Homo sapiens: one gene and its partners. The protein of the gene in region 3 interacts with the protein of the main gene of each other region in a pairwise test. Each region holds a gene or a part of one and is shown on either strand. Other genes may lie near its edges. The genes, in order: ZNF232, WDR88, HSF1, LPIN1, TMEM185A, KLF15 and CHST10.

Region 1 (4,610 bases), on a different chromosome or scaffold from region 3:
AAATTTAAACTGAGTGGTGCCTGATCACCTCCAGGTCCCAGGCCCTGCACATGGACCTGCACAGGAAGAGCCATGGGAGAAGAAGGAATCTCTGGGAGCAGCCCAGGAAGCACTGAGCATCCAGCTCCAGCCTAAGGAGACCCAGCCTTTCCCAAAGAGTGGTGAGGAGCAGGATTCTGTGGGGAGGGAGAGGAGAAAGAGGGACTATAAAGGGCACAGTACCTAGTACCTGTAAAGGGTAAATAGTAGTAGGTGCTTAAATGTTTGGTATCATCACAGCCTTACTATTCTTATCTCTTAGGTGAGAGACTTTGCCTGTTTCATCACTCATAAAATTAGGAGTAAGAATAAACTACCTCATAAGATAGCTCTGAGGATTAAGCTCAACTTGGGTCTTATCTGGATATAAAGCCTGGCCAGCATCTCTTAACTTTAGAGAGCCCTAAATCAGGACCAGGAAATAGCTCATTCATTTATGCCTTATCATCTCCACTGCACTTAACTCCTAGTCTATAATAACTCTGCCCTGAGCTAGAGGCCAGCCTTGAGATCCTTTTTTTTTTTTTAAACTCGCTGAGGCCTCGCAAAACACTTTTTAAGCCATAAAGCACTCCTATGTGAGATACAGCCTGTCATCACCTTTACCACCTCTTCCTCATGTAAACAGCCCTATCTGAAACTCTCTTATGTGTGCCCTCACCTTCTACCCTTCAGATTCACTACAGAAACTTCCTTCTTGGCCTGCATACATACCTGCAAACAACCTCTCCTCTCTCCCAGCGGCGAACACTAGACTTAGAGCCTCAGGGGCGTGAACTCTCCTTGTTGACCTCTGTAGCCTTGTGACCGTATTGTGAATATGCGGCTAACCAAGAAGAGTCTACTTGATATTTGCTTTTACACCATAACTGCCCCCCCATCACTATCACCAAACCAAGGCATTTGAAAAATCAAATTCTTCTTAGTTACAAAATGGGAAAAAATAGAAATGGAGATTAATTAGACTCTGTCCCAAAAGTATGTTTCTACTTCTTAGCTCTTCTTTCTTCCTTGACTTTTTTCCAGACTTTTTCTTGTCTCCTTTACTTCTGTTTAGTAAGCCTCTATTCATTTATCAATTTTATTACTTTACTCTCAAAAAGAAGCTAGCTATTGTGTGATTTTTTTTTTATATATAGCAAGCATATTTCAGATTTTTTTAACCACAGCATTTAACCTGAAAAAATGAATTTTTAAAAAATCAAATGATCTTGGCTGGGCACGGTGGCTCACGCCTATAATCCCAGCACTTTGGGAGGCTAAGGCAGGTGGATCACTTGGGTCAGGAGTTCAAGACCAGCCTGGCCAACATGGTGAAACCCTGTCTCTACTAAAAATTCAAAAATTAGCCAGGTGTGATACGCGCCTGTAATCCCAGCTACTGGGGAGGCTGAGGCACGAGAATCACTTGAACCAGGGAAGCAGAGGTTGCAGTGAGCCAAGATCATGCCACTACACTCCAGCCTGGGCAACAGAGCAAGACTCTGTCAAAAAAAAAAAAAAAGTCAAATGACCTTGAGTTATCTTAAAGCAATTGGTTTCTGTTCTCCTTAGGCTATAGGGAGCATTACAACAGATAAAACATAAAATGTGCTATGGACATTTAAAAACAAAAAGGCAACACACTCTTTTTTTTTTTTTTTTTTTTTTTTTCCTTTTTGAGATGGAGTCTCGCTCTGTCGCCCAGGCTGGAGTGCAGTGGCGTGATCTCGGCTCACTGCAAGCTCCACTTCCCGGGTTCACGCCATTCTCCTGCCTCAGCCTCCTGAGTAGCTGGGACTACAGGCGCCCGCCATCATGCTCGGCTAATTTTCTGTATTTTTAGTAGAGACGGGGTTTCACCGTGTTGGCCAGGATGGTCTCGATCTCCTGACCTCGTGATCCACCCGCCCTGGCCTCCCAAAGTGCTGGGGTTACAGGTGTGAGCCACCACGCCCGGCAACACACTCTTTTTCCCTTTTTAAGGAAGAGAAAGGCAGAGAGCACCAAGCAGATAGGAGGCAGGGAGCTGGAAGTCCTCCCTTTGATAAAGGAGGCAGTTAGTTGAGAGTCCTCTAAAGAGGCTATAGATTGATGCAGCTGGGAAACGGATGGGAAGAGGTGAAGGTTGCAGAGCCAGGAAGGGCACAGTTTTTTTTGCCTTTAGAAACCTCCCTTTTCCTTAACCCTAATGATTCTTTCATGTTTTTCCCTTTCTTCACAACATCATTCCCTGATTCCTTGAAAATATGAAAAATCCTAAAAAGACCATGCATTGTAATTGCTTTCATTTTTTCAATAAAACTTCTTTAGTGTTTCATTATGGAGAAATTAGGGGAAAAAAAGCAGATAAATGGGAGAAATTAAAAAGAAGAAACCCTCTCCTCTGTATAGTCCCATCACCAAGAGATAACTGTTGGCAATATCCAGTAAATATTCTTCGAATGTTTGTCATATATATAGTTGTTTTTAAGCATTTGTTTTCATTCCAGAAATATACATTTTAATCTAAGTGTCATTTCTTCATACATCCAGAACAGGTATATTTACATTTTCTGTCAGTTGTTACAGAAGATGGCCCAGAGCCCAAGGACAAAGGATCATTGCCACAACCACCCATTACTGAAGTGGAATCACAGGTGTTCTCAGAAAAACTTGCTACTGACACCTCTACATTTGAAGCTACCTCTGAGGGTACCTTAGAACTGCAGCAGAGAAATCCCAAAGCGGAGAGACTGAGGTGGTCCCCTGCCCAGGAGGAAAGTTTCAGGCAGATGGTTGTCATCCATAAGGAAATTCCCACAGGGAAGAAAGACCATGAATGTAGTGAATGTGGTAAAACCTTCATTTATAACTCACATCTTGTTGTCCACCAGAGAGTTCATTCTGGAGAGAAACCCTATAAGTGTAGTGACTGTGGGAAAACTTTCAAACAGAGCTCAAACCTCGGTCAGCATCAGAGAATTCATACAGGAGAGAAACCCTTCGAATGTAATGAATGTGGGAAGGCCTTCAGATGGGGTGCTCATCTTGTTCAGCATCAGAGGATTCACTCAGGAGAGAAGCCCTATGAGTGTAATGAGTGTGGGAAGGCCTTTAGTCAAAGCTCATATCTAAGTCAGCATCGGAGAATTCACAGTGGAGAGAAACCTTTTATATGTAAAGAATGTGGGAAAGCTTATGGATGGTGCTCAGAGCTCATTAGACATCGGAGAGTTCATGCCAGAAAAGAGCCTTCCCATTGAATTGAAGGGGAGAACGTCTCCAGACAGAATTCTACATCGGTCTAATCTACTTTAGGACTGGATCCCATAAAAGTTATAAGTTCCTTAAGATTTTTCCTGTGTCTTTCTTGATTTTGGAAAAACTGTTTACTTAGTTCTGCCTGTAGATCATCCCTTCATGTCCTCTGATGAAGATACTGATATTAATTAGGATGCTTTGGATGCAAGTAGTAGCCAAGTTGTTTTGCTTCTTTCCAGCATGATCTGCCTAGTTTGCCCACCAATAATGTCTACCTCATTAGAATTTTGTTGTTGTTGTTGTTTGAGACGGAGTCTTGCTCTGTCGCCAGGCTAGAGTGCAGTGGCACGATCTCAGTTCACTGCAACCTCCACCTCCCGGGTTCAAGCAGTCCTCCTGCCTCAGCCTCCCAAGTAGCTGGGACTACGGGCATGTGCCACCATGCCCAGCTGATTTTTTATATTTTTAGTAGAGACGGGGTTTCACCATGTTGGTCAGGCTGTTCTCGATCTCTTGACCTCGTGATCTGCCCACCTCTGCCTCCCAAAGTGCTGGGATTACAGGCCTGAGCCACCATGCCTGGCTACTTCATTAGAATTTTTTTTTTTTTTTTTTGGAGATGGAGTCTCGCTCTGTAGCCCAGGCTGGAGTACAGTGGCGTGATCTCGGCTCACTGCAAGCTCCGCCTCCCGGGTTTACGCCATTCTCCTGCCTCAGCCTCCCAAGTAGCTGGGACTACAGGCGCGTGCCACCACGCGTGGCTAATTTTTTTGTATTTTTGGTAGAGACGGGTTTCACCGTGTTAGCCAGGATGGTCTTGACCTGACCTCATGATCCGCCCACCTCGGCCTCCCAAAGTGCTGGCATTACAGACGTGAGCCACCGCGCCCAGCCTTCGTTAGAATTTTTCACCTGGCACTGAGCAGCTGCTCGGGAAGTGTTAGTTATATTTGTATTTATTGTGAATGGGTCTTTCGTCTGGCTCCCTTTTTTTTTTTTTTTTTTTTTTGGTAGAGATGGAGTCTCACTATGTTGCCCAGGCTGGTGCCAAACTCCTGGCCTCAAGCAGTCCTGCCGCCTTGGCCTTCCAAAGTATAGGGATTACAGGCATGAGCTGCAGTGCCTGACCAGTTCCGGCCGTTTCTCAGACCCAAACACTAGTTTGGGTCTGCTGGCTCAGACAGGGTCACATCTGCCAGTGTCCAGGCAGGGGACAAAAACCACACTAGTAATTTGAAGAAAATTTAAAGAAGTATTAACTAGTAAAAAGGGATTATCTGCTAAAGGGAGTAAAGAGATCTCTAAAGAATATAGGGGCTGGGCACGGTGGCTCACGCCTGTAATCCGAA
Region 2 (4,060 bases), on a different chromosome or scaffold from region 3:
GACTCCATCTCAAAAAAGAAATAAAAAGAAAAAAGGAAATTTGATCCTTTACCTACCTTATCCTACATTCCTACATCCCACGGTCCAACCCCAGAACAACAGGGCTCACAGAGGAGGAGGCTCCCAGGCCTTGCCCTAGGTGGCCAGTGAAAAACAAGGGCCATCACTGCTCTGTAGCAAGTCAGCTTTCACAGTTTAAGGGCCAAACAGGGACAAGGTCCATGTGAGTCCCACCCCTCACACAACTGCCTTGCAGTGCGGCTCCCAAATTAGCCATTCCCAGAAGCAGTGGCTCCCAGCCGAACCTTCTGAGAGGAGGCCAAGTCTAGGCAGCTCCAGGATTCCCAGGGAAGGACTTAAAGGGGCCCAGCCTGCACTCCAAGGCAGCAGCCAGGTGTGTGCACAGAGAGGCTCCAGCGGAGAGTTGCCTCCACTGCCCAGGGACAGCCTCTGTGGCCAGCCCCAGCTGTGCCTGGTGAAGCAGAAAATATGCTGGCCTGACCACCAAGCTCTTGCACTAGAGAAGCGCAGGCACCTAAGCCTTTTGCATGGGAAGTGGGGCACTGGGGACCTGCCCAGGGTAGGAGGCTGACGCAGTGCCCAGCTGTGTACCCGGCCATTCCTCCACTGACCAGTGCTCCTGCAGGTCTCATCCCCTCCAAGCCCCCTCACTCCACCCCTCCGATGCACCAGGCTGGCTCCTGCCTCTCAGGCTCTCTCTGCATTGGCTGTTCTCTATGCTGGGAAGTTCTTTCTTCTCTTTTTTTTTTTTTTTTTTTTTTTTTTTTGAGACAGAGTCTCGCTCTGTCACCCAGGCTAGAGTGCAGTGGCGCAATCTCAACTCACTGCAACTTCCATCTCCCAGGTTCAAGGGATTCTCCTGCCTTAGCCTCTCGAGTAGCTGGTAGTACAGGTGTGCACCACCAAGCCTGGCTAATTTTTTTGTATTTGTAGTAGAGACAGGACTTAACCATGTTGGCCAGGCTGGTCTCGAACTCCTGACCTCAGGTGATCCGCCTGCTTCAGCCTCCCAAAATGTTGGGATTACAGGCGTGAAACACCGCATCCAGCTGGAAGTTCTTTCCTCTAAATATCTGCATGGCTCACCCCCTCACCACCTTCAAGTCGACACAGCTGTCAGTCCTCAATGAGACCTATCCTGACCACCCTTTAAAATCTTGCAACCTCCAGCACTCCTACTCCTGTTTGCTATGTATTTTTCTGTCAATTACTTATCACCATGAGACTTACTACACATTTTTCTTGTGTCTTTCCTCTTTGTTTCCTCTCTTAGAATTTAAGCTCCCCTGGGGCAAAAATGTCAGTCTGTTTGTTCACGATTGCATCTCCAGGTGCCCAAAGTTCATTCAAATGATAAATTAATTTATAGAGGGAACTAACGAAAGCCTTCACTGGGCTTAATTTTACCCAATACCAACCTGTTTCAACTTTAAGCCCACGGCCTTTTTGTACTTGATTACCAAAGGAATTTCATCAATTTCTTCAATATTCCACAGTCTCATGGTCCTATCCTAAAACAAATAGCAAACCAGCGGTCACAAAACAGGCTGTGGTACATCCATACAAAGGAATGTCATTCAACAATCAAAAGACATGGGCTGTCAAGGCACAAAAAGACAGAGGAACCTTCAATGCACATTGTTATGCCATAGAAGCCAACCTGAAGAGGCTACAGAGTATAATTCCAACCATATGACATTCTGGAAAAGGCAAAACTGAAGAATATAAATAGATGAGTCATTGCCCAGGATTATAGGGAAGAGGAGGAGGGATGAATAGTAAAACTATTCTGTATGGCCAGGCGCGGTGGCTCATGCCTGTAATCCGACCACTTTGAGAGGCCAAGGTGGGTGAGGTCAGGAGTTCAAGACCAGCCTGACCAATATGGTGAAACCCCGTCTCTACTAAAAATACAAAAATAGCTGGGCACAGTGGCGTGCACCTGTAGTCCCAGCTACTTGGGAGGCTGAGGCAGGAGAATCACTTGAACCCAGGAGGCGGAGGTTGCAGTGAGCCAAGATCGCACCACTGCACTCAAGCCTGTGCGACAGAGTGAGACTCTGTCTCAAAACAAACAAACAAACAAAACTATATGACACTGTATTGGTGGATATATGATATGCATTTGGCAAAAATATACAGTAACACAAAGCATGAAACTATAAAACCATGGACCTTAGTTAATAATAGTTCCTGAAAGGAATGCAGTCCTGTTGATACCTAGATTTTAGCCCAGTGAGAGCTTATCAGACTTCTATCTTACAGTACTGTAAGATATTAAATTTATGTTGTTTAATGTTTAAACAGTACAGTCTGGTAACTTATTATAGCAGCAATAAAAAAATGGATACATTGAGTATGTTACATTTCTTGATTCAGCAGTTGCAACTAAATATCCTGTGGGAGAACAAAGGGGTCATTTTTGTAACAGATGTGTTGACTTCATGCTGCCTAAAGCTGTCAGATCTTACCAATAAGCATACTTCCTACAGTATAGCAAGTGGTTTGTCAAATCATGACAACAAAAAACATCCTCCCAGCTCTTAGATACTTTAATTCAAAAGTTAGTTTCAAGCTGGGCATGGTGGCTCACACCAGTAATCCCAGCACTTTGAGAGGCCAAGGCAGGCGGATCACCTGAGGTCAGGAGTTTGAGACCAGCCTGGCCAACATGGCGAAACTCTGTCTCTACTAAAAATACAAAAATTAGCCAGGCCTGGTGCTGCATGCCTGTAATCCCAGCTACTCAGGAGGCTGAGGCAGGAGAATCACTTAAACTTGGGAGGCAGAGTTTGCAATAAGCCGAGATCGCACCATTGCACTCCAGCCTGGGTGACAGAGCGAGACTCTGTCTCAAAAAAATAATAATAATAATATTTTTTATTTAGCTGGGTGTGGTGATACACACCTATAGTGTGTTTGGGGCCACTTTTCACCTTCCTCGAAATGTACAGAAGCACTTAATGAGATTTTTTCTTTCTTTTTTTCTCTTTTTTTAAGACAGGGTCTTACTCTGTCACCCAGGCCCGAGTGCAGTGGCATGCCCTCAGCTCACTACAACCTCCGCTTCGCAGGCTCCAGTGATTCTCCTGCCTTGGCCCCCCGAATAGCTGGGACTACAGGCATGCGCCACCATACCCCACTAATATTTTGTATTTTTAGTAGAGATGGGGTTTGGGCACGTTGCCCAGGCTGGTCTCAAACTCCTGAGCTCAGGCAATGTGCCCATCTCAGCCTCCCAAATTGCTGGCATTACAGGCATGAGCCACCGTGCCCAGCCAAGATTTTCAATTAGAGAAATGGAAAGAGATATCTTCCTTAAACATGTGCCTACAAGATGGCTATTATCATTTCTGACCATAGAAAAGATGTCAAAATGGGCCGGGCACAGTGGCTCATGCCTGTAATCCTAGCACATTGGGAGGCCAACGCGGTCGAATCACTTAAGGCCAGGAGTTTGAGACCAGCCTGGGCAACATGGGAAAACCCCGCCTCCGCTAAAAATACAAAAAATTAGCCAGGCATGATCGCGGGCACCTTGTAATCCCAGCTACTCGGGAGGCTAAGGCGGGAGGATCGCCTAAGCCCGGGAGGTTCAGGCTGCAGTGAGCTGAGATCATGCCACTGCACTCCAGCCTGGGCGATACAGCAAGACCCTGTCTCTTTAAAACATAAATAAATGGGCTGGGCGCAGTGGCTCACGCCTGTAATCCCAGCACTTTGGGAGGCCAAGGTGGGTGGATCACCTGAGGTCGAGAGTTCAAGACCAGCCTGACCAACATGGAGAAACCCCGTCTGTACTAAAAATACAAAATTAGCCAGGCGTGGTGGTGCATGCCTGTAATCCCAGCTACTCGGGAGGCTGAGGCAGGAAAATCACTTGAACCCGGGAGGCGGAGGTTGCGGTGAGCCAAGATTGTGCAATTGCACTCCAGCCTGGGCAACAAGAGAGAAACTCCATCTCAAAAATAAAATAAAATAAAATAAATAAATAATGCACATTTTAGATAGATATAGCCTATACCGTGAATTTATAGTG
Region 3 (4,276 bases):
ACCCTACGTGACACCAGGTGTCCCCGGCAGGGAGGGGCAGTGGGACCAGCAAGCCCTGGCCCTGGCCCCCAGTCCCTCCACACACAAGTTCTCATCCTGGGGTGGGCCAGGCCAGACATGGTCACACTTACCCCTGCTCCTGCATGGGGGACAGGGAGGGTCTGTGGGGCTCCCTCAGCCCTGGGGCTCATGGGATTGGGCCCCACTGACCCAGCCTGGTCTGTTGCAGTGAGAATGAGGCTCTGTGGCGGGAGGTGGCCAGCCTTCGGCAGAAGCATGCCCAGCAACAGAAAGTCGTCAACAAGGTGGGGGCAGGGCCAGAGGGCCGGCGGGGGCCCCACAAGGGCCGGGGTAACTGTGTCCTCTCTCTCCACAGCTCATTCAGTTCCTGATCTCACTGGTGCAGTCAAACCGGATCCTGGGGGTGAAGAGAAAGATGTGAGGTTTTGGGGATGCCTGCATCCACCACCCGGGGCCCAGGGCTGTCCCCCTTCTCTGTCAGCTGTGCCCCGGGTACCCCGAGGTGGGGGGTGGTGGCTGACCTGCACCCTTCCCCACAGCCCCCTGATGCTGAACGACAGTGGCTCAGCACATTCCATGCCCAAGTATAGCCGGCAGTTCTCCCTGGAGCACGTCCACGGCTCGGGCCCCTACTCGGTGAGTGCCGGAGACAGGGCACCCGCCCAGGCATGCAGGCGGCAGTGGGGTGGGTTGCCCCTGCCGGCACTGCATGGACCTCCTGCCTTTGATTGCAGGCCCCCTCCCCAGCCTACAGCAGCTCCAGCCTCTACGCCCCTGATGCTGTGGCCAGCTCTGGACCCATCATCTCCGACATCACCGAGCTGGCTCCTGCCAGCCCCATGGCCTCCCCCGGCGGGAGCATAGACGAGAGGTGGGGGCCGCATCACCCCAGCCATCCTGTCCCCCAATGAGGCGAGCCCCTGTGGGCCCAGGGCAGAGTTGGGGATGAGGTGGGGCTGGCCGAGACGCCAGCTCACCTGGCCCCCCTCGTGTGCAGGCCCCTATCCAGCAGCCCCCTGGTGCGTGTCAAGGAGGAGCCCCCCAGCCCGCCTCAGAGCCCCCGGGTAGAGGAGGCGAGTCCCGGGCGCCCATCTTCCGTGGACACCCTCTTGTCCCCGACCGCCCTCATTGACTCCATCCTGCGGGAGAGTGAACCTGCCCCCGCCTCCGTCACAGCCCTCACGGACGCCAGGGGCCACACGGACACCGAGGGCCGGCCTCCCTCCCCCCCGCCCACCTCCACCCCTGAAAAGTGCCTCAGCGTAGCCTGCCTGGACAAGTGAGTGCCGCCCACCCCTGGCCCCACCCACAGCGCCTGGACGCACAGCCCTGGGCTTCAGCCCCGACTGTCCCAGTGGACTGAGCAGGGCAGCTGGCGAGGCAGGACCCTACCCCCAACCTCGGAGCTCGGGGCTGGGGAGGGAGACAGGTGCCAGCCAGATCACCCCACAGTCCCAAACGCCACAGAAGCCACGGGCATGTCCGGACAGGCTGCCGGGCCCTGCTCTCAGCCACCCGTCCTGCTGCCGCCACCCTCGCCACAGGCCACGGGCCCTGGCAGGTCGTGCTGCCCAGACACATGGCAGGAGATGGTGAGCAGGGCCGGCCTCCACACCCCCAGCCCCTGCCTGCAATGGGGGCTCTTGTTTTTGTATCTTGCAGTTTGGCTCGCACTCCACAGATGTCTAGGGTCGCCCGCCTCTTCCCCTGCCCCTCTTCCTCTCCGCATGGCCAAGTCCAGCCAGGGTTAGCGCTGACCCCACTGGGGAGGGAGGAGGGCTCTGCCAGCGCTCGGGCCCTCCCACACAGCCGTGGACCAGACCCAGCCTGGCCGGGCATGAGCGTCGGGCCTGGGCGGCAGCAGCCGAGACCCCTCTGTGGCGGGGGCTCAGTGTCGTCATGGCTCCCCTGGCCACGGGCCTGTGGTCATTGCCTGTGACAGGGATGACAGGGACAGGCCTCCCTGCTCTGGCACGGCCTCTGGTGTTGGCAGGATCCAGACTGCGGTGCTGACTGCACTTCCTGTCAGGCAGGGTCTCCAGGGCACCTCTGGGACCCAGCCTGGCTGTCCGTCCCATAGCCCAGGTGTGCCCTGTGGCCTAGGGCTTTCTTGGTCACAGCCACCAGACCGTGGGTCTCATCCCCACAGCAGCACCAGGGCAGGGACTGAGCCACCCACACACTGAGCAGAGCCCCACCTGTTTTCCCAGTGCAACGGGAAACCTCACCAACCCTGAACACTGAAATCCCTGATCCTTGTGCTGGAGCTGAATACGCCCCTTGTCTCCTGGGTCCACTGCCACCAAGGCCCCCAGGCCCTCATGGCAAAGGGATGCCCAGCATAGGCCCAGCCGCACCCCTGCAGGGCACAGAGCCTCCACTGCCTTCCAGGCCGTCCTCGAATGCGCTGCCCCCTCCAGCCTGTGCAGGCGTACACGGGGGTGCAGCCTGGGGGGTACAGTCAAGGGGAGCCCTTCTCCCACAGGAGGGCATTGGGGTGTGGGGCCTGGGGCACTGGTTCAGGTACCGCCTTATCCCGGGCCAGGAATGAGCTCAGTGACCACTTGGATGCTATGGACTCCAACCTGGATAACCTGCAGACCATGCTGAGCAGCCACGGCTTCAGCGTGGACACCAGTGCCCTGCTGGACGTGAGTGGAGCCCCGCCGCCCCGCCTCCCCGCCCCGCCTCCCCGCCGCGCCGCCCCGCCTCCCCGCCCCGCCTCCCCGCCTCCCCGCGCCGCCGCCCCGCCTCCCCGCCCCGCCTCCCCGCGCCTCCCCGCCTCCCCGCCCCGCCTCCCCGCCTCCCCGCCCCGCCTCCCCGCCCCGCCTCCCCGCCCCGCCCCCGGGTGCTGTTCTGACTTCCCTCCCTCCTCCGCAGCTGTTCAGCCCCTCGGTGACCGTGCCCGACATGAGCCTGCCTGACCTTGACAGCAGCCTGGCCAGTGTGCGTAGGCGGGCGGGGGGTGAGGGGGAACGAGACCAGCGGGAGTGCTCACAATACCGTCTCCACCCCACAGATCCAAGAGCTCCTGTCTCCCCAGGAGCCCCCCAGGCCTCCCGAGGCAGAGAACAGCAGCCCGGATTCAGGTGAGCCAAGTCCCACCGGCCCCACCTCTGCCCCCAACCCCCCACCGCCTTGACACCCCCACCCCCGCAGGGAAGCAGCTGGTGCACTACACAGCGCAGCCGCTGTTCCTGCTGGACCCCGGCTCCGTGGACACCGGGAGCAACGACCTGCCGGTGCTGTTTGAGCTGGGAGAGGGCTCCTACTTCTCCGAAGGGGACGGCTTCGCCGAGGACCCCACCATCTCCCTGCTGACAGGCTCGGAGCCTCCCAAAGCCAAGGACCCCACTGTCTCCTAGAGGCCCCGGAGGAGCTGGGCCAGCCGCCCACCCCCACCCCCAGTGCAGGGCTGGTCTTGGGGAGGCAGGGCAGCCTCGCGGTCTTGGGCACTGGTGGGTCGGCCGCCATAGCCCCAGTAGGACAAACGGGCTCGGGTCTGGGCAGCACCTCTGGTCAGGAGGGTCACCCTGGCCTGCCAGTCTGCCTTCCCCCAACCCCGTGTCCTGTGGTTTGGTTGGGGCTTCACAGCCACACCTGGACTGACCCTGCAGGTTGTTCATAGTCAGAATTGTATTTTGGATTTTTACACAACTGTCCCGTTCCCCGCTCCACAGAGATACACAGATATATACACACAGTGGATGGACGGACAAGACAGGCAGAGATCTATAAACAGACAGGCTCTATGCTATGGCCTCCATGTGTTTCCTCTGTCCCAGGGTGGTGCGGTGGGTGGTGCTGCAATGAGGAGGGGCCCAGGGCACAGAAGGGCCGGGCTGCAGTGGCCTCCTGGGGGAAGACGGATGCTTGCAGCTAGCTCCGTGCCTGCCCGACTCCCCAGGACCAGCATGTGCTTGCAGTTCTTTATTGAGGGACCAGGGGTGGGCGCCTCACCTTGGCCCTGGGGGTCTCTGGTTGTCACAGGACCACCAGGAACCCCCTTCCCAAGGTGTTCGCACTCGGACAGGTGATGCGGGGCGGGCACACTGTCTTTCTGCCAGAGCCAGCACCCTGTGTAGGCACGGGGAACGGGAGCCTGTCCCGTAGCTTTAGGGTTCTCCACTCAGCCTGGTGGAGGAAGGGAAGGGGGCCTGCGCTGGGCAGTGGAGCAGGCTTTGCTGCTTTATCTGGCAGCAACAGTTTGTTCTCGAGCTCCACTGGCCAACTGATAGGGAGAGGCACAGGAGCC
Region 4 (4,467 bases), on a different chromosome or scaffold from region 3:
GCATCAGCATATACAAATACAGATCAAATGCAAATAAAGTGTGCTTACAGTGGTGATCCAAACATAAAATTGCAAAGGGAATTCTCTTTGAAAGTGTAATTATTTTTCTCCAATGTACCAGGTATATATTTTTCTCTATGCCAGGTATACATATTTGTCTTCATCACATGTGACAAACATTTGATGACTTGTCACTAAGTAGGATTCATTTCCATAGGGCAACTTTGAAATGTGTGGTCCAAATACAGCATTCCAGCACATGACCTCAGCATCACTGGGTTATAGTCATGTACACAAAGATAAACCAACTCGTATATGCGTGAGTGCAGCCCATATACAAATCTCACTTTCAGAAGCCAGAAGGCAGGTGTTAATATGCCAGCCTTGCCAGGGCTCACATTGAACTTGACACAGATCTGAGAGTGTGACTTTCTGGAAAGCATGCTCTGTTTCAGGGTGCAGTGATGTGGAAGTTTAAGGTACATCAAAATTCGGGATCCAAAATTGCATCCTCTGAAAACTCCGCCTGCAGGGTGTGCTGCTGCAGAGGGCTGCCTGGATGCCAACTGCATGAGGGATACATCCCCCCATTCTCGCAGCCAAAGTTCCTCCTGGGTGCAAAGGAGAAACCGTCTGAACCTTTGCAGGCCCATGAGCTTATACTTAGTTCAGAGCAGTTAAAATTCACTCAAAAATACCCTCATTGCATAAAGAATGAATATAGCCTCTTTAGGTTACTAGTGAACAAGCGCAGAGGAGTTAGTTAAGGCAGGACTTTTTTTTTTTTTTTTTTTTTTTTGACATGGAGTCTTACTCTGTCACCCAGGCTGGAGTGCAGTAGTGCAAGCTCGGCTCACTGCAACCTCAGGCAGGACTATTTTTAATTATTTTTAATACCTGCAAAAGGGAATCTGCACATGCACATCCGTGTTTCTACAGAAATCTGCGATCGATGGCAGATCTGTTTGCCTTTGTGTGTCCACATGAACCATTTGGCAAAGGCATCCAATGCTAACGGGGCCCACCAACTACAACGGAGGCAACAACTCTGTGGATTTTCTTTCACAGAAAGAGTAAAATTTCATTCAACCGTTCCATTTTTTGCCTCCTGTGATTCTAACAATGAAATTTAAATAGGAAAATGTTTCAATCGTTGGAGTAAAACACTCTTTAAAAAAATAATGCTTCGAAAAGTAAAGCAAAATCTTTTACCAAAATAATTCTTTCACTTTTCAAATTGTTCTGTCCACGAGCCAGTGTAATAAACAAGTGAAAGAATCACATTCTGTAGGCTTAAAGAATGCCAAATTATTACTTTTTCGCTTGCCCTTAATTTGAGTGGAAAAAGCTAAGGAAAATAAATGACTCAGAAATTCCAAAAGAAGGTCAGTCTATGAGAAAGAGAGAATAAGGCCCTTTCGATAGTCTAACACATACATCTTTTTAATATATTAATGACAGTGGTATAGAAAGAATATGAATAAATGCCTATCACAGTAACCTAATCAGAGTAAAACAATACATAATATCTAAAAGAATATAGTTGAACTTCTTGAAACTATTTTCTTAAAACCAACCAGTTTCTTTGGAGAGCTCCCAACAGAAGTCAGTATCATTATCATTTGGCATAAGTGTGCTCAAGTCCACACTGTCAGCACCACCTCGCTGGATGGAAGGAAGCCGGCAGTGTCAAACTCATTCAAAATACTGCCTTAGTAATATTTACTGTCATTTTAATCTAAGGCGTTGCAAAGTTACCATGAGCTAGATAAAGCGCATTCTTAAATGTCTGCCATAGATATATTAAGGCATAAATATTCCAGCCTTGAGCCACAAAAACTGGGGGGAGATATGCCAATGAAATAGACTATCTTTAACCAAAGGAATTAAAGAAAAATTTATCACCTAAAAATGAGACTAGTCAGCAAATACTGTAAGGGGCCCATCCACAAGGCCAAGTCTGAGGCCAGGCCTGGACCCGGTGGCGTCCAGATTTCTATCAGAGACCTCAGATCCAGGTCACATGAGCCTTCACAGCCCTCCCCACTGTGTTCAGAAGGTGGTGGCACTAACATTGCTATAATGGAAATGTGCCCCCTACTTTGCCAAAAACCGTGCACATCTGGCATTCCTCGATTGACCCTGTCCTAGGCGGGGACAGCCCTCAGACAGCCGCCTTCTGCCTAGGTTTCACAGCCCCAAACTGCACGTGAACCAGTAGCTACTTGCTGGAGCAGGCCGGAAAGGCAGCGTCGTAACTGGCATTAAGCCACAACTGAGGAATGCTTTTCACGGTACAAATGCACCCAACTCCTAGCCTAGAAAGTGCTCCCTTCCTATCTTGCTTAGAAATGTCAGCCCCGGGGTGGGGCAGGGGAGAAATGCTTCTCAATTCTCTCTGCTGTCAGGCCAATGATGACGCGCCAGGCTCCCAGGTGGAGCTGTGCACTCCGGGGAGACCTATCCTTTAATGGGTGACAACCAGGCTCTGCACTGCTGGCAAGAGGCTGCTTGGGACATTTTACGCTGAGGCAGAATGAATGTCCTGGTTTTCAAAAGGTGGCAGTGGCTCTCTCCAAAAGGTGAAGTTACTGAAGGTATCCGAACAGGGAAAGTCTGAAGAATGGCTTCTTTTCAGCAACGGGAAAACGTGGTCGACTACTTCACAGAGTCTCACATACCTGGAAGGAAAGGGACATTGTCACTGGCACTGAGCGATACCAGCTATGCACCCAGGGCTGCACGTAGAAGTCAAGAGAGATCTACAACCTCAAGGAGCAGACCGCCTACTTATCGACACGACTCAAGTCATTCTAGAATAATTTGTTATCGATTAATTGAAAATGAGAGATGAAAATGAAGAGTATGCAAACAAGGCATCAGAGAAGGCTCTGGGGAAGAGGTGGGTGGGACCTGACTTCACTTGAAGGACAGGTAAAGGAGATACAGCCAAGCAAAAGACGGCAGGAGGAAGTCACCATGGCCATGGGATAGCGCCTGCTGCAGGGGTCACATATGGGACATCGGGGGAAGAATCACAGACAAGGCACATCTTTGGAGCACCTGACAGAGATTGCTTCATTGCATAGTGAAAAGGAGCTGGGTCCTGGGGTTAAAGAGACATTAATTTGATGTTCAGCTCTGCCATTTACTAGCTGCGTGATCGTGGGCAAATGGCGTAACCTCTCTAAGCCAATTTCCTCCACTGTAAAGGGAGGAAAATAAAAACTATGCCACAGTTTTAAGGATAATTTAAATAAAATAACATATGCAACATTAAAATAATGTATACTGGGTGCTCAAATGTATCTAAATGACAAATTATCAACACGTCTTAGAGAAAAAAGCCCTGGTTGGCATGACGGTCAAGAGACCCGGGCTCTCCTGCTTGCTGTAACCTTGGACAATTGTCTTGCCCTCTTGGAGCCCTTCGTCTTTATAGTCTGTGGAGCTGAATTAGAGCAGGGCTTCCCAATGCTTCCTACAACGTTCTCTTGCTCTCTTTTATTTGCATGCCCAAAAATATGTTGCATGTTAGTTTCTGTGGCTTATACTATGAAAAGAAAGTTGCTATTGCTATATTGAATATGCATGTTCAGACCTCCAGGCACCTCCAAACTGAGATTCTGGCACACCCAGCCCACTGCCAGCCATCCCCAGATTCCTCCTTGACAGTCACTGATCACTGTCTAGTTCCAAATTGCTAAGAACCTAAAGGAACTTCCAAAATCCAGACTCCAGAAGTGTGCATGTTCTGAGGTATAAAATAATGTACTAAATGAAGCCGAGTGTGTATATTTAATAAAGGACCTCCAAAGGACTTATGAGAAACAGTGTGCTTGCACAAAATGGGAAAGTGACGTCTCCTAATACAAAACCAAGAGTTATGTCTTTCCTTGGGATTCAAACAAACAGACAGATTTTTAAAATACCTCCCGGCTTTAAGGCTTATTTGTCTGAGGTTTGTGGCTGCGGCAGCAGGGCCCCTCCCTGCAGGCTTGACTACAAGGCCGCGGTGCACTGGAACCAAACCCACTCTCACACTCCCTGAGCGGCCAGGCCGAGTTCCATCTGCGCGCCTCCCCCAGACCGACCTCCACACACAGTGCTCCTCCCAAGCAGGCAGAGCTTACGCACAGACACTCGCAAACGAAAGGGAAAAAGAACTGAGCTGCTCCCGCTGTGTGGCCCCAGCCTCTGAAGACATTTCAGATGACTGTCCCAGTTCTGAATGACAAGCATCTACTTGGCTCAGAAATAGCTATACCAAGTTCAGCGCCAGAGAAATGTGAGCTTCCTGGGGGAGGAGATTTACTCTCTCACAGGAACAACCCCGCCTCCAGTCCAGGTGTAAAATGTCAACATCCCCTGGCAATGAGTAAAGTCTGCAGAGCTCCACCCTAGGCCAAGCCATGGGCGAGGTGTGCATTTTAACCCTAGAGCCTCAGTCAATGCAATGACCGCAGA
Region 5 (4,467 bases), on a different chromosome or scaffold from region 3:
GATTCAAACATTAACAAATGCTAAGATAATGACGACACAGGATTCATATGTAAATTAGATAACATGTACAGGTAATTTTTATCCTAAAGGATTTTCAGACTATAAATAAAAAGTAAATTGGTGGGGGGGGGTGGTAAATGCTGTAAGCTAACTTCATTATCCTCTGTAAAACAGTTTCCTTATTTAATAAAAAAAGAGAGTAGTGGAACTAAAGAAAAGAGAAGTACCAAAATGTTTTAAATGTTGGAAAAGGGATTATTTTATGTGGTTTTTGACATAATTTAAAGGAAACTTAAAATTTTATGTCTATTACATGAAAAATAGAAAACAAGATAAACTTACAAAAGGACCCACAAAATATAATTCATGATTCAAATACTAGGGTTAGAAAAATATACATGAGCTGAATGTTCTCTTATTAATTTCCTATTGCTGCCATTCAAAACTGCCACAAACCTAGTGGTTTAAAAAGCATAAACCTAGTGGTTTAAAAGGCATAACCCTTACAATTCTGGAGGTCAGAGTCCAATATGGGTCTCGCTGGGCTAAACTTGAGGTGTCAGCAGGACTATGCTACTGAAGGCTCTAGGAGAGAATGTTTCTTTGCCTTTTCTAGCTCTAGAGGCTGCCACATTCCTTAGCTCATGGCCCCTTCCTCCATCTTCAAAGTCAACAATGGAGAATGCAGTTCTTCTCATACTGAATCACTCTGACCTCCTTTTCTGTCTCCCTCTTCTATATTTAAGGGCCCTGTAATTACATTGGGCTCAGCCAGAGAATCCAGAATAATCTATTTTAAGGTCAGCTGATGAGCAAACTTAATTCCATCTGCTACCTTAATTCCCCTTTGCCATGTAACAGAACATATTCCCTGGTTCCACGGATTAGGATGTGGACATACTTGGGGGCGTCATTATTCTGCCTACCACAGCTCTGTAAAAAGAAAGGTTGCTTCCTAGATTAAGAAAGTAAACCTGTTACATTCAAGAGTTACGCTTGGAACCAAAGTCAAAAGTCGAACCAACTATCAGAAATCAGATGACAGAGGTTTAGCACGCCTGGATGAAGACAAGAGCAACAATTTACTATCTTTAAAATTAGATAAATTAGATTTCAAAGCCGAAAGTATTAAAATGCTAAAAGGACTAATAAGGAAAACCTAAATAACAAAAACCTAACATGACCATGGAATATGGAAATAATTTTACAATTTTTCTTTTTTAAGGATACACAGAAATATTTTAATTGTGGGCTTCCTCATGCTACTCTTAAATCATGACAGATAAAACAGACAAAGTTCCTAAGGAAAATACGGAAATGAACACAAGAGTAGATTTAAAAAACAGCAAGGTTATATGAAGAGAATTAAGTAGCAGAACGAGAAAATTTAAAAAACAGCAAGCTTATATGAAGATAATTACGTAGCAGAACAAGAAAACATACTTGCTTTACATATATATAGTTTTTCCAGGGAGAAAAAAAGGATCATGGGGCAGCAATACACAATAAACACACATCTAATTTACAATTGTTAAAAATATTTGAGTGCCTGAAATGTGTGAGATACATAAAAAGGAGCAACAATGCGTTCGCTCAAGATGCTCAGACTAATAGGAACAGAGGGAGATGATGTATCAACAAGTAACTACATATGGTAAACTAGGGGACTTGGAAGATTAATTTCCCTGAGAGAGATGGGAAGAGAAGTGGAATCTGGGCAACAAGTTGGGAATAAGGAATTCCAGACAAAGGGAATAAGATGTTTTCCAATTTTTTAAAAATTATTTTTATTTATTATGGATACAAAACAGTTGTGCCTATTTATGGGGTACACGTGATACTGTGATGCAAGCATACAATGTGTAATGATCAAATCAGAGTAACTGGGATATCCATCACCTCAAGCACTGATCACTTACTTGTGTTAGGCACATTTCAATTCCACTCTTTTAGTTATTTGCAAATATACATTATTAACTATATTTGCCCTCTTGTGCTACCAAACACTAGATTTATTATTTCTATCTAACTGTATTATTGTACCCATTGCTCATCCCCTCTTTATCCTCCCCTCTCCAATTCCAGCAGACTGGAACACACAGAATACTTTCTATAAATCGTGGTGGGTAGGGTGCTGCAGAGACAGGAGAAAGGGTACTGGGGGGAATAAGCCAGAAGTTGGCTGTGGTAACATGGTAGGGGAATGTGAATATCAAGGTAAAGTCCTTGGAATTTATTAATAGGTAATATGGGGCCACTGCAGATTTTCTCAACAAGAGTGACAGAAGATACATATGAGTGTGTAAGGTAGATTGTAATCAGTAGAGACCAGAGGTAGACATTTTATACAATTCATAAAAACACTGACAAAAAATGGATCATTTTCAATACTGATTTGTTAAGCAGTTTAGTAGAGTTACTAAAATACAATTGAAACATAAAAATACCTGGGCAGCTGCCAAAACAAAACTCAAGAGAAAATGTGTTCATTTAAAATGTTTAAGTAAAAGTAGAAAACAAAGAAAAAAAAAAAGAGGCAAAAGAAAACTAGTAAACTGAGTTTCTAAGAAATTTGGGGAAAAAGCCAAAACATGAAAATAATAAAACTAAAAGTAGAAATATAGATATAAAAATGAAACTGATCAGTAATCCCAACAGCTAGCTTTTTAAAAAAATTAAACTACAAAGTTGATCAAGTAAAACAAAGTAATACAATCAGTAAGTTCAAAAGATGTAATTCATACACACTCCTAGTTGGGGAAAGAAAGAATAGTATCTTAACTATATCAATATATTTGCAAGCAAAGTCTAAAAGGTGACTGCATAGCCAAAAGGAAATATCAAGCCTGATTTGCAAAAGAATACACAATAATATGCAATAATACAGTGATAAGAAAATGTATTTACAAAAATAACTTATGGTCATAGCCTAAACTACTTTGAGTTACTTTTCAAGAAACATTCAGACCAGATTCCAAGTATAAAAATAGACTGCTTAATTCTCCACAAACCTGGGAGAAATGGGAGGTTCTGGTTTAACATTAATCACTACTTCTTAAAATTCACTTTTCCAGTTACACCTTTAGAATGGATTTATTCCACTCTCATTTGAATCTGTAGTGTTAGTATACGATGAATCACTAAGTAGTGCTACCTGGGCCAAAGCTAGTATCCTCTCTGAAATTTACATGGAGCTTTCTGCTCAGGCTCAAATTCCCTCTCTCCACTTTGCAGGGTTGGGAGAATAGGGAGGGAGAAAAGGAAGAAGGGAGGGAGAGAGAGAATATACTTAGCAAAGGAATGATGACTCTGAATGTAAAAGTTCTAGTATCTGTTTTCTGCATATCATAAGAATGCAGCTGGACTCTTTTTAGACCTATCAGTTTTTTTCCAGTGGAAGCTGCTGGCTTCACTGGAGCACATACACGCGCATTAACACATGCCTGCATGCACGTACACACGCACAAGCACATACACACACACAAACTTTGGATGGCACATCCCAGTCTAAAGCTTGACAGAATGGCTCCAAATGACAACCTGACATACTCACAAACTATCAAGGGAACTGCCCCTCTTACACCTTATTAACCAAATTTAAAGTCTTTTAGTGGAGACTTTAGCTGGTTTTATTAAGATAAAAAATGTTTAAGAGCATTTAACCAGTAGATACAAAAAAGCACAAAAGCCAAATAAAAGCAGAGCCCAGGCCAGTAGGAAGATCTGCATTTAAGTTCCTCAACTGCCATTCATCAGCGGTGTGGTCTTGGGTGAGTTATTTTCCCCCAGGTCTGTCTCCTCATCTGATTCCTCATATACTGATTCATTAAGACAAGGGTATGTGAAAGCACTGTGTAAATGATACATTTTACCCATTCTAGCTTTAGCAGTATTATGAAAGACAAAAGTTCTGCCACATTGTAGGTAATAATCTCATTTAGCAATCATTGTTGTCACTATTAGGTTGGAGCTGACAAAGTATGAGTCTCCACTTATAAAGCATCTATCTCCAGAGTTCGAGGCTTTTGTCTTAAATTCCAGTCATCTTGTACAGGCATGACATATCAGGCAAAATGATTAGAAAACTCAAGCTCCATATTAAAAAGCTTAACTTCTGGAGTCCTAGGAAACTATCTAAAACTCCTTCAATCCACGGTCTCTCCTGTACAACAAAGACTTCCCAGTGGTAGATGTCTATTTGTACCCAACATCCACTCATTCAGCACGTAATTCAGCACCTCCAAATCCTGGCCCTCAAAGAACACAGCTAAGAACAATGTGTGTGTAATTATCAAGTAATAGGAATGATACTTTTAAAACTGGAAATTATACATTCAAATGAGATTTCTCTCCTTTAACCAGTCCCCTTGGGAGGCAATGCAGTAATTCCAATGGTACTTCATTACTCAAATCATCTTTGAAGCTTTCTTCTTGGAAGCACCTTGAGAACCTGCAGTCTGATCTTCT
Region 6 (4,467 bases), on a different chromosome or scaffold from region 3:
GAGTTTGTATCCTTATGATGTACAAACAACAAGGAGGCCGCTGTGGAGCCCTGCACGCCTGCCCTGGGCTGCAAAGGGCTAGCCCTCCACTCTGCAGACAGGAAACTGAGGTTTGGAGGGGGACCACCCCAAAGGCACATGACAAGTTAGTGGCTGACCCAGGCGTAGGCTCAAGACCACAGCCCCCACATACCTGTGCCCTCGCCTTCTCTGCACAAGTTTCCTGCTTCAATCAAGAGCACTCCTGGCCCTTCTCTCGGCTCCTCTAACCTCCTATGCAGTGTACTTGCTGCTGTGTCCTCCTCTCACAAGCAACCTGTCAGCCATGCACCCACTCGGCAGGCCTAGGTACAAAGCTCAGAGAGGTGGGGACTCCAGGATGGAGACCTTGTGAGGCCCCAGGGTGGGCTCTCACAGAAGCCTCTCCGGTCTGTCTGAATGGGGTGGGAGACAGGACAGAGTGATGTCCTCACTCAGGAGGGGCCTCCATAAACCTAGACACTGTTCAGGAAAATTCCCTTCTCTGGCCAGATTGGCACTCAATGGAAAGGTGGCACCAGTGCCACAACATACATTCCACTCACAGCTCCCTGACCACAGCTCAGCCTCACTGGCCAGAACCTCTGCCCCAGACAACTCTCAAGAGCTCTCAGAACCAGAGTATGGTCAAGAAAACAAAAGCTGCAAACTGCTCCCCGGGTGTTGCACCCACACATAACACATGCACACACAGGCAGCCACACATGGTGCACAAACACCTAAGACATGTATGTGTGCAAACACATATGGTCACACGGCACAGACAGACACAAAGAAAGCAAGATGCATACACATGTGGGTGTGCACACACACAGCCACACACCTGCTGGCGAGGCCCAGGCCTGTATACACCCCCAGGGATACAGATGAGTGTGCCCCGTCTCACACACGTAGCAGCAGCCACAGCAGCAAAGATTTGGAATGTGCCAACAGCACACAGCGCCCCCCAGGCAGGCCAGAGATTCCTTTGGGATGGGCATCAGGAACTGCAGAGGGCTGGCTCTGGCACCCCGGAGCACATGAGCTCTTCGCAAGCAGCCTACATTTCAGGAAAAGGTGGACAGCCACTCCCAAGGAGGTTGAGCAGCACCCGGTGCTCAGGGAAGGGTGCTCCCTGGTTGGGAGACTACCAGTTACCATTTGAGGCCTGATTTCCCCACTGCCATGCAGACCAGACAGCCTGGGTTCTGCCACCTGTGACAGCACCACCAGCTGGCCTAGCCTCCCTCTGGGTTGGCCTTTGCAGCCTCCCAAACATGCTTCCACGTCCCCAGGGAGGAAGCATAGGCGAGGCCCAGCCCATGTGTCCAGAGACATCTGTGAATGAAGCTAGTCCCACTGGTTGGGGAAGCAGCATTTTCAGGATGTGACCTCTCGAATCCGGCCTCTGGGTTCAAATCCCATTCACAAAGCAGAGTGACCTTGGGCAAGTACCTGGCCAGTCGGAGCCCTAGTGTCCTGTGATGTAAGTTGGGAGTGATGGTGGTACTTACCCTGTGGGGCTGTGGGCCCAAAGGGAGCCGCTGCCTGGCCCCTAGACCGCACTCATCCTTCCTCGCCAGCCCCTCAATCCCCACCCTTGTCAGACTGGATGGGGAGACCCAGCTGGCAGCACAGGCCAGTGAAGCCTTACCTGGCCATCAGGAAACTGGACACCAGTTGGCTTCCGGCTTCAGGAACCAGGAGGACCAAGGAAGCCTCCAGGCAACTGTGCCAGCTCTGGGCCTGCACCCGCCTGCCCCTCCCTCCCCTCCCTCATCTACCTTCTGTTAATGGTGGAAAATGGCCCTGCTGCACACCCAAGTAAGCAGACATGAGTGGCTGTGCTCACTGCCCAGGCCTGTCACTCGCTATACTGACCTCCAGCCGCAGCCTGGCCAGGTGCAGGCGAAGGGCTTCTCACCCGTGTGCCGGCGCAGGTGGGCCTTGAGGTGGCTGCTTTTGGTGTACATCTTGCTGCAGCCAGGGAAAGTACATTTGTGCATTTTGATGAGTTCTGCGGCTGGGTTCTTGGGGAACTTCTGGCCCATGAGGAGACCGGCAGGGCCAGGCCCCAGGGGTCCCGATCCAACAGGCTTGGCGGCAATGGGCACAGGGGCAATGCGCACAAACTTGGAGGGCAGGTTCAAGTTGGAGGAGGGTACCACCTGGGGCACGAGTGCGAAGGTCTGCCCCTGGATGTTGACCAGGAGCTGGGCAACCTTGACATTCTCTGGGGCTTGCCCAGGGGAGGCAGGCCCTGTGCCCGATTCCTGCTTCACAGGCACGGGCTGGATCTGCAGCAACACTGGGATGGGGCCATCAGGCGTGGGGCCCCCACCTGGGCCCTGGGCACCTCCTGCACTGGCACCACCTGGTGGAGGGGAACAGCGCTCTCTCCCGCTGGACCCAGGATGGAGGTGGCTCTTGTGTGGCCCAGCTGAGAGCTGGCTGCAGGCATCCAAGTCCTTGCTGTTGCCCTCAGGGACCTCCTTGACTCCAGGCTCCATGTTCTCCTCCAGAAACTCTTCAATCTCCTCCAGGGTAGGCTGGAAGGGCCGTGGGACGTCATCAGGATCACCCAAAGGAAACTCGGGCAAGCAGAAATGCTCCCCCTTCACAGGGGCCGCTGCCCTTCGCCAGGGCCCCCAGGCCACGGGGCCACTGCTGGCCCCAATGCTACTGCCGCTGCCCCCGCCACTGCCCAGCGTGGCCTGGGACAATAGGAAGTCCAAGATGCTGTCCTGGCTCTCGGTGCCCAGGCCTCCACCATAGCAGGAGCAGAGGGCTTGAGAGTCGGGACTGGAACAGGAGCAGGGGCTGGAGGCATCGCTGTCATCTTCAGAGACGGGTGAGGGCAGCATGTGATATGCCCGCCGGCCAACCAGCCTATCACCCAGATACCCAACTGGGCATTTTGGCGACGAGAAGTTCTCGTCCACTGGAAGTAAGTGGTCCACCATGCTGGCCTGGCCGTGCCGGTGGCGGCTGCAGGAAAGGAACACAGGAGGCCTGGTCAGAAGGACAGTGCTCACCTGCCACCTCGCAGGCCTCTGACCCCACCCTCAGCTGCCTGCCCACAGCCTCCTATTGCCAAACGCCTGGATCCTGCTTCCATCCCCCAGGAGAGCTGTGCCTGCAAGAGTGTTTTCTGAAATTGCACCACCTGTTTGCAAAAGAGACCTCTCCAAGCCCATTGCATAACCAGGGGCACTTCTGGTTTCAAACAGATTTTCCAGAATTATCCTGGAAAATAGCACATATGTCTGTGAACAACTGAGTATGGGTGAGTATGAGAGAAGGGCATGCGCGAGGAGGCTCTCTGGACCCCAGGAGGGCCAAAGCCCTGAATCAGCCCACCGTCAACATCATAGGAGTCACTGTACATCTGAGGACTCCTGACCTCAGCTTCACGCCTGTTGAGTCACAGAATGGGGGTAGAACAGCCATTTGCCCTCTGACCCTCATGTTGCTGAGGCTTCCAGAGGGTTGCCAGATTACGCAAATAAAAATACAAGCCAACAGTTACATTCGAATTTCAGATTTAAAAAATAAACTATTTTTAATATAAGTATGTTCCCAATATTGGATAGGACACACTTACATTTAAAAATTATTTCACCTGAGATTCAAATTTAACTAGGCCGCCTGCATTTTAACTGGGCAAGTGTAGCATGTAGGCAAAACAGTCAAAGACCAAAAAGTGCCTGCCTGCGCAGCTGTTTCCCCACCTAAAGCTCCTCCACTCTCCAGTCCTCAAACCCCTCTGAGCCTTGACTGCCCTGTGAGTGGCACAGGCTTGAACGCAACCCTCTCACCTGCACCCTGATGCTTGAGCATCCTGGTGGCCAAGGCCCTGCCCCTCTGGTGATAATCCGTGGAGTGGAAGCAGACCACTGGGGTCCCAGAGCACCCGCATGTGCCTAACTGCCTTGGACTTCACACCCATCTAGTGGGAAAGGAGACAACCACCCCCCCAGCCCATCCTGACCAATAAGGAAGTGGAGTCCCCTGCACTCTCTGCCATTGCTCTCTCCATCTGGGACACTCACCGCCTTGCGAAGGTTCAGCTAATGCCTGTCTCCCCCTGAGACAGTGCACTCCATGTCTCTGCTGCGTCCCCAGTGCCTGGACTGGCCGCTGGTGCCCAGCAGGGGCTCAGAGAACTTTGATAGAGAGGAGAAGGGAAAGCTGCATCCTCTGAAGCCAAGGACATGCTAGGTCTGGTGCCAAGGAGAGTCAATAGTGTCCAGCTGTGACGGGGCCACCTCTGTGAACCTTTGTCCCTGCTCAGTGACCAGGGCAGGCTGGGTGTTTATCAAGCTTGGGGAAGGGGAATGCTCTGCACCAAAGTCAGAGGTTCTCTGCTGCCCAGCATCACCTCTACACCCAGCCCCTCTGTCTCCAGGACCCCTTCAGGGCCTGGCACCCGGCACTGCCCAATGGCCA
Region 7 (4,467 bases), on a different chromosome or scaffold from region 3:
CAGAGACCTTCACATCACAGGCTCTGCCCTCAAGCGGCTCAGAACCAATGAGGAAGTCAACCAGGAGAGGAAAAACCAGCGCCTACAAACACAAACCAGGTCCACAAGGGCATCATTTTGAGTCTTGCCATATGATTCCATCACATTCCCTTCGCTGAGGGGGATTTATTTTCTTATGAGAAAGTCTAGTTACAACACCTGATCCTAGTTCAATATGATACTGAAATTTGCTAACTGAGGATAAATCATTGCCACAAATATCACTGGCTCCACTGCTGAGCTGAACAGAAACTGTAACACTAAAAAAAGTAAGTGTTGCTTTAAACAGCAACTCACGACAACCATGCTCTTCCTAGGGGCTCCAGTGGCAGGAGAAACCGGGAAAGGCAGGTAGGTGAGAAGAACATGCACACCACTGATGGGGGTTCTGAGGCTGGCCCTGTCCCAGAGGACAGAGCTGAAAGGAGCAGCCCGGGAGCACTGAGGCCAAGGCTTCTCCACGCACTTTCCAGGAAATGGAACTCCCCACCGTGGACACTGCCGTGTCTGTTATTTCCTGGTCTTGACACTTCACAATGGGCTTCTGGTTCATAATCAAAAACACCGTGAACGTGTGTGAAATAAACTCCAACATGTGAGAAGCCCTTTATGGCCACGAGCTTAGAGGGGTTCCTGTGCTGCCCAAGATCCAGGCTCCGGGACACACTCTCTAAAGCACAGTGCTGGAAGGGCAGGCTCCAGGGGAGAGGCCTACACCACCCCAGCCCAGGGCCTCTCTGACGCCTGCAGGGGCAGGCTCTGAGTGTAAATGCTCTTGATGCTTCAGCCCAGCGTCCTTGTGCACTGGCAAGATGCTGGGTGCCAGCTCGCATCCTGCATCCAGAACTCAGCTGGCGGATATCCACCTTCAGGATCCTAACCTAACCAGGTCCCTTGGGACAATTAGGTAACATCTCACGCGAGTGAGGCAGGCTGGGTAGTGCTGTGGTGGTCACCCCGCAACGGGAGTGGGCCCACAACAGAAGATTCTCACTGAGTTCACTGCACACTGTGCGGCCAACAGCATCCTCACCACCAGCAGCCCCTGCCTCGGGGTCAGGGGCAGCACTCCCATCTCAGTGACCCAGCACCCACACACCACACCAGATCTCACAGGGCAGGGAAAGTGCCCCCTTTCACTCGCCTGAAGGCAGCCGGCTGGAAAGATCTCACAGGCAGTATTAAGGACCGCTGCGGTGCTCCTCTCCAGGTGTAAAATCCGAAAGCCCTTCATCTTTCTTCATAGGTTTTATCTCCTAACACTCCTTACCACTCCTTTTCTCCGCTTCACAAAACCCTGTTCTGCGCCTACACTTGCTTTTTTTCTAACCGGGCCTACCCCTGCTTAGCTTCCAGGATCAGTGTCTACACTGAAAACATTCAGCACAAAACTTGATACATCAAAGGAGAATGAGACCTCATTTACCAGATGCCGCTGGGAAACAAGGCATTCTTTAGAGGCCATTCTGCCAGATAACAGTAAAACACAAAGGCACAAGTCTTATTTAACTATTACCTATAGAAGTCTCACTAAAATGTATTACATCTACTCCTACTTTTTTAAGCAAAATAAACCATAAACAATTTAACCTCATGACCTGCCTTTTGAGTGCCTTCCATACCAGGAGGTGACATTTAGGAGAATCCTGAGTAACACCTATTTCTTATTCTCAGCAGCTCTGTTTCTCTTCAGTTCTCCAGCTAGGATCTACCACTGTGCTTCTCAACTGGGCCCCACCCCTAGTGATTCTCCTTCACTGGGTCTCAAGCAGCAGCAGGTCTGTAAAGTCCCACAGGTGATTCTGAAGTGCTGCGGGGATGAGAACCCGGCTCTAGGGCTTCAGGAGGGATCTCTCAGTGGCATGGCACTGTGCTGAAGCTGCCATGGAAATGTCCAAACTGTCAAACTGAGATCATCGTGTCACATTCCAGCAACCCTCCAAGAATCGACCCTTGCTCTGCTGACGGAACCCCGAGTCCCGGGCGTGAGCTGTCATGCTCAGTGACACCTGCCCAGATACCTGCAGGTGTAATATCACCTCCCGAGGCTGTGCAGACCTCACAGGTTTCTCTCCAGGGCTCCTGGAGGATGAGGCAGGACATGTGATGACAGCCAATCAGGGCCCAACAACTGTCATGGGGAGAACCACCATGTGGGCTAATTTCAGGGTGTCCCTCTTTTCCCTGCAGACCTCCCTTCTAACCTTGCTGTCCCTCTGCAGACAAGGTGGGGCAGAGAGAGGATGGGGCAGGAGGTGTAGGACATCGGGCAGTCCTTGACACAGCCAGGGACATGCCTGGGAGCTCTGTGAGGTGGAGCAGGGGCCTGTCCCACACAGACAGCACAGGTCAGTGCAGCCTCCAGGAAGAACTGCTGGCACAGAGGCATCTCTAACTGCCCCTTTCCAAGGCCACCATCGGCAGGAGGACAAAGTACGGTGCAGAGCACAGCAAAGTGCTGTGCTCATCCACGTTCCCCAGTATCTCCCAATCAGCCTAAAGGAATGGGCCAATCCACGGCACAAATGAGGACTTCAATGACTCCATGTGTCTGGCTTCCTCGTGCTTGCCTGCTTGGCCACTCAATGAAGTGGCCTCGGGGCTGGAGAGCATATCACACACCTCTTTGGACATATCCAGCACTCCACAGACCACAGAGCACCTCACCATGCTCAGGGCAATCATGGGCGGTGCCGGAGCAGGCAGGGTGTCCATTTGGTGGAAGAAACATTGTGATGTAGATAAGCAAATGACAAGAGCACGAAGTAGAATCAGCATTCTGAGACCCAATTTGGCGCTCTTTATCCGTCCTCATCTGAATGCCTACGTTCAGTAAAGGAGAGCTAAGAAAGCCTCCAAGACAACCTGAAGACATACATTTAAATGACCCTCCTCCGCTGCATGGAGGGTGACCTTCAAACATGTGGCCACCACACGGGCATGCCAAGCAGTTGAGGCTGCACCTCTCATGATGACATGAGGCAAAGAGAATTCCCAACTGCGAGCCTGAGAGGCGCCCTGCTGCAAGGCATAAGGCCACTGTGCTGCTGGGAGGAGACCCTGCTCCTTGCTCCTAGGCACCACCCAGGCCTCAGCCACAAAGAGCAGCTTCCTTCCTCCAGAGGAGATGCTTGAAAAGACCCTCCAGCCCCTCCCACCCTACCTCCCCTCACACCTCTGTAACATGAAGGAACGGAGGCCATGACCTCCAAGGTCCCTGCTGGCATGAAAGTCCTTTGACTCTGTGACAGAAGTCATCTATGCATGTACCTAGGAACAGTGTTGCAGCTAGGTCTAAATTAGCCAAAATTCGTTCCACCATGAAGCATACGTACCATCTGGGTCTTTAAAGGTCAACGTGATGAACTTGCTAGCCACCATGAACATGAAAATCACCCAAAAGCATGCGGCCAGCAGAAGCCACTGGTGGTGCATGTTGTCACACCGCAGCCATTCACTGACTCTTCCTGGAAAACACAAGCGAGATGCCCCTGCTGCTTACAAATACATCAAGTCAACAAAGAGGAATGAAAACGACAGGTGATTTCAGTCAGTAAGTATCAGCACAAATATTTCCGTTTTTTTCCACTGCTACAATAGGTAGTTTGACTTGGCATTTAACATTTCATATTGAATTAATAATATAAATGATTGATTCAATAATAAAATCAAATTTAGAACACCCTAATGGAGAGACATGATAATGAGAGAAGACCACTTCCTTGTGTTCTCAGAACACAGAATAAGACTCCTTTGCACATTTGATCCCTGACTCCTGTTGGGCCCAGGCTAAGGTCCCAGTGAGCTCCCACGATGGTCTGGAAGCAGGTGGCAGGAAGAGGCCTGCCAAGGACTAGGCCTTAGCTGAGGGTCATTCATAGTGGGCAGAAGCCATGCTGGGGCAATTAGGAGCTGGCTGTGTTTAAAATTCTGACTGGCTGACAAGATGTAGCCACACCTAGAGAAGCTCTAAAAAAGCAAAGGAATGAACACTGACGCTTCTCGCCTCCGCCCACTTGCCAGCAGCGGCCTGGGTAGAACACTGAGGTGGGTGTTTTTCATGCTGTCACAGCCAGGGAGCAACACGGGGCATGTCGGTCCTCAGCCTGGCACAGAAGCCACACTCTCCTGCAGGAGGCACATAAAGAACTGGGAAGTCACTGTCAGTTCTTGGCAGGTGACACAAGAAAGTGTGTTTCATTTCACCTTTAACACAGTGCTTCTTCAAGCCAAAGCTCTCCACGTACAGACAAGACCCTGGGCTGAGCTGGCTTCCACCGACTGACTGAGGCCATCCATCACTTCTGCATGGCAGGGAGAAGTGGTCCCCTCAACACAGTGCTGATGGCAAATAATTTCAGAGAGAGCCTCCTAACCCTGGGTGGGTCAGAGCTCCATGAAGACCCAGGTGAATCACTCTCCTTGTCT

The links.
Region 1: the proteins of HSF1 (region 3) and ZNF232 interact in binary tests that used the Homo sapiens proteins (3 or more experiments, as listed by UniProt).
Region 2: the proteins of HSF1 (region 3) and WDR88 interact in binary tests that used the Homo sapiens proteins (3 or more experiments, as listed by UniProt).
Region 4: the proteins of HSF1 (region 3) and LPIN1 interact in binary tests that used the Homo sapiens proteins (3 or more experiments, as listed by UniProt).
Region 5: the proteins of HSF1 (region 3) and TMEM185A interact in binary tests that used the Homo sapiens proteins (3 or more experiments, as listed by UniProt).
Region 6: the proteins of HSF1 (region 3) and KLF15 interact in binary tests that used the Homo sapiens proteins (3 or more experiments, as listed by UniProt).
Region 7: the proteins of HSF1 (region 3) and CHST10 interact in a two-hybrid assay, tested with the Homo sapiens proteins (one large-scale study listed by BioGRID and IntAct).

Annotation. Positions count from the first base shown.
Region 1 is NC_000017.11:5,104,477-5,109,086, reverse strand, and holds the end of ZNF232 (zinc finger protein 232), read left to right. Parts: intron 1-34; coding exon 35-161; intron 162-2,553; coding exon 2,554-3,263; 3' UTR 3,264-3,351; downstream 3,352-4,610.
Region 2 is NC_000019.10:33,169,820-33,173,879, reverse strand, and holds part of WDR88 (WD repeat-containing protein 88), read right to left. Parts: intron 2,378-4,060; exon of another isoform or gene 1,533-2,377; coding exon 1,440-1,532; exon of another isoform or gene 1,295-1,439; intron 1-1,294.
Region 3 is NC_000008.11:144,310,945-144,315,220, forward strand, and holds the end of HSF1 (heat shock factor protein 1), read left to right. Parts: intron 1-229; coding exon 230-305; intron 306-376; coding exon 377-438; intron 439-560; coding exon 561-657; intron 658-755; coding exon 756-892; coding exon of another isoform or gene 893-933; intron 934-1,018; coding exon 1,019-1,300; intron 1,301-1,683; coding exon of another isoform or gene 1,684-1,767; intron 1,768-2,566; coding exon 2,567-2,672; intron 2,673-2,901; coding exon 2,902-2,967; intron 2,968-3,040; coding exon 3,041-3,110; intron 3,111-3,180; coding exon 3,181-3,386; 3' UTR 3,387-3,776; downstream 3,777-4,276. UniProt on the Homo sapiens protein: Functions as a stress-inducible and DNA-binding transcription factor that plays a central role in the transcriptional activation of the heat shock response (HSR), leading to the expression of a large class of molecular chaperones, heat shock proteins (HSPs), that protect cells from cellular insult damage.
Region 4 is NC_000002.12:11,822,846-11,827,312, reverse strand, and holds part of LPIN1 (phosphatidate phosphatase LPIN1), read right to left. Parts: intron 2,682-4,467; coding exon 2,522-2,681; 3' UTR 1-2,521. UniProt on the Homo sapiens protein: Acts as a magnesium-dependent phosphatidate phosphatase enzyme which catalyzes the conversion of phosphatidic acid to diacylglycerol during triglyceride, phosphatidylcholine and phosphatidylethanolamine biosynthesis and therefore controls the metabolism of fatty acids at different levels.
Region 5 is NC_000023.11:149,621,100-149,625,566, forward strand, and holds part of TMEM185A (transmembrane protein 185A), read right to left. Parts: intron 1-4,467.
Region 6 is NC_000003.12:126,349,942-126,354,408, forward strand, and holds part of KLF15 (Krueppel-like factor 15), read right to left. Parts: intron 3,007-4,467; coding exon of another isoform or gene 2,982-3,006; coding exon 1,900-2,981; intron 1-1,899. UniProt on the Homo sapiens protein: Transcriptional regulator that binds to the GA element of the CLCNKA promoter. Binds to the KCNIP2 promoter and regulates KCNIP2 circadian expression in the heart. Is a repressor of CCN2 expression, involved in the control of cardiac fibrosis.
Region 7 is NC_000002.12:100,403,202-100,407,668, forward strand, and holds part of CHST10 (carbohydrate sulfotransferase 10), read right to left. Parts: exon of another isoform or gene 4,246-4,467; intron 3,507-4,245; 5' UTR 3,475-3,506; coding exon 3,375-3,474; intron 1-3,374. UniProt on the Homo sapiens protein: Catalyzes the transfer of sulfate from 3'-phosphoadenylyl sulfate (PAPS) to position 3 of terminal glucuronic acid of both protein- and lipid-linked oligosaccharides.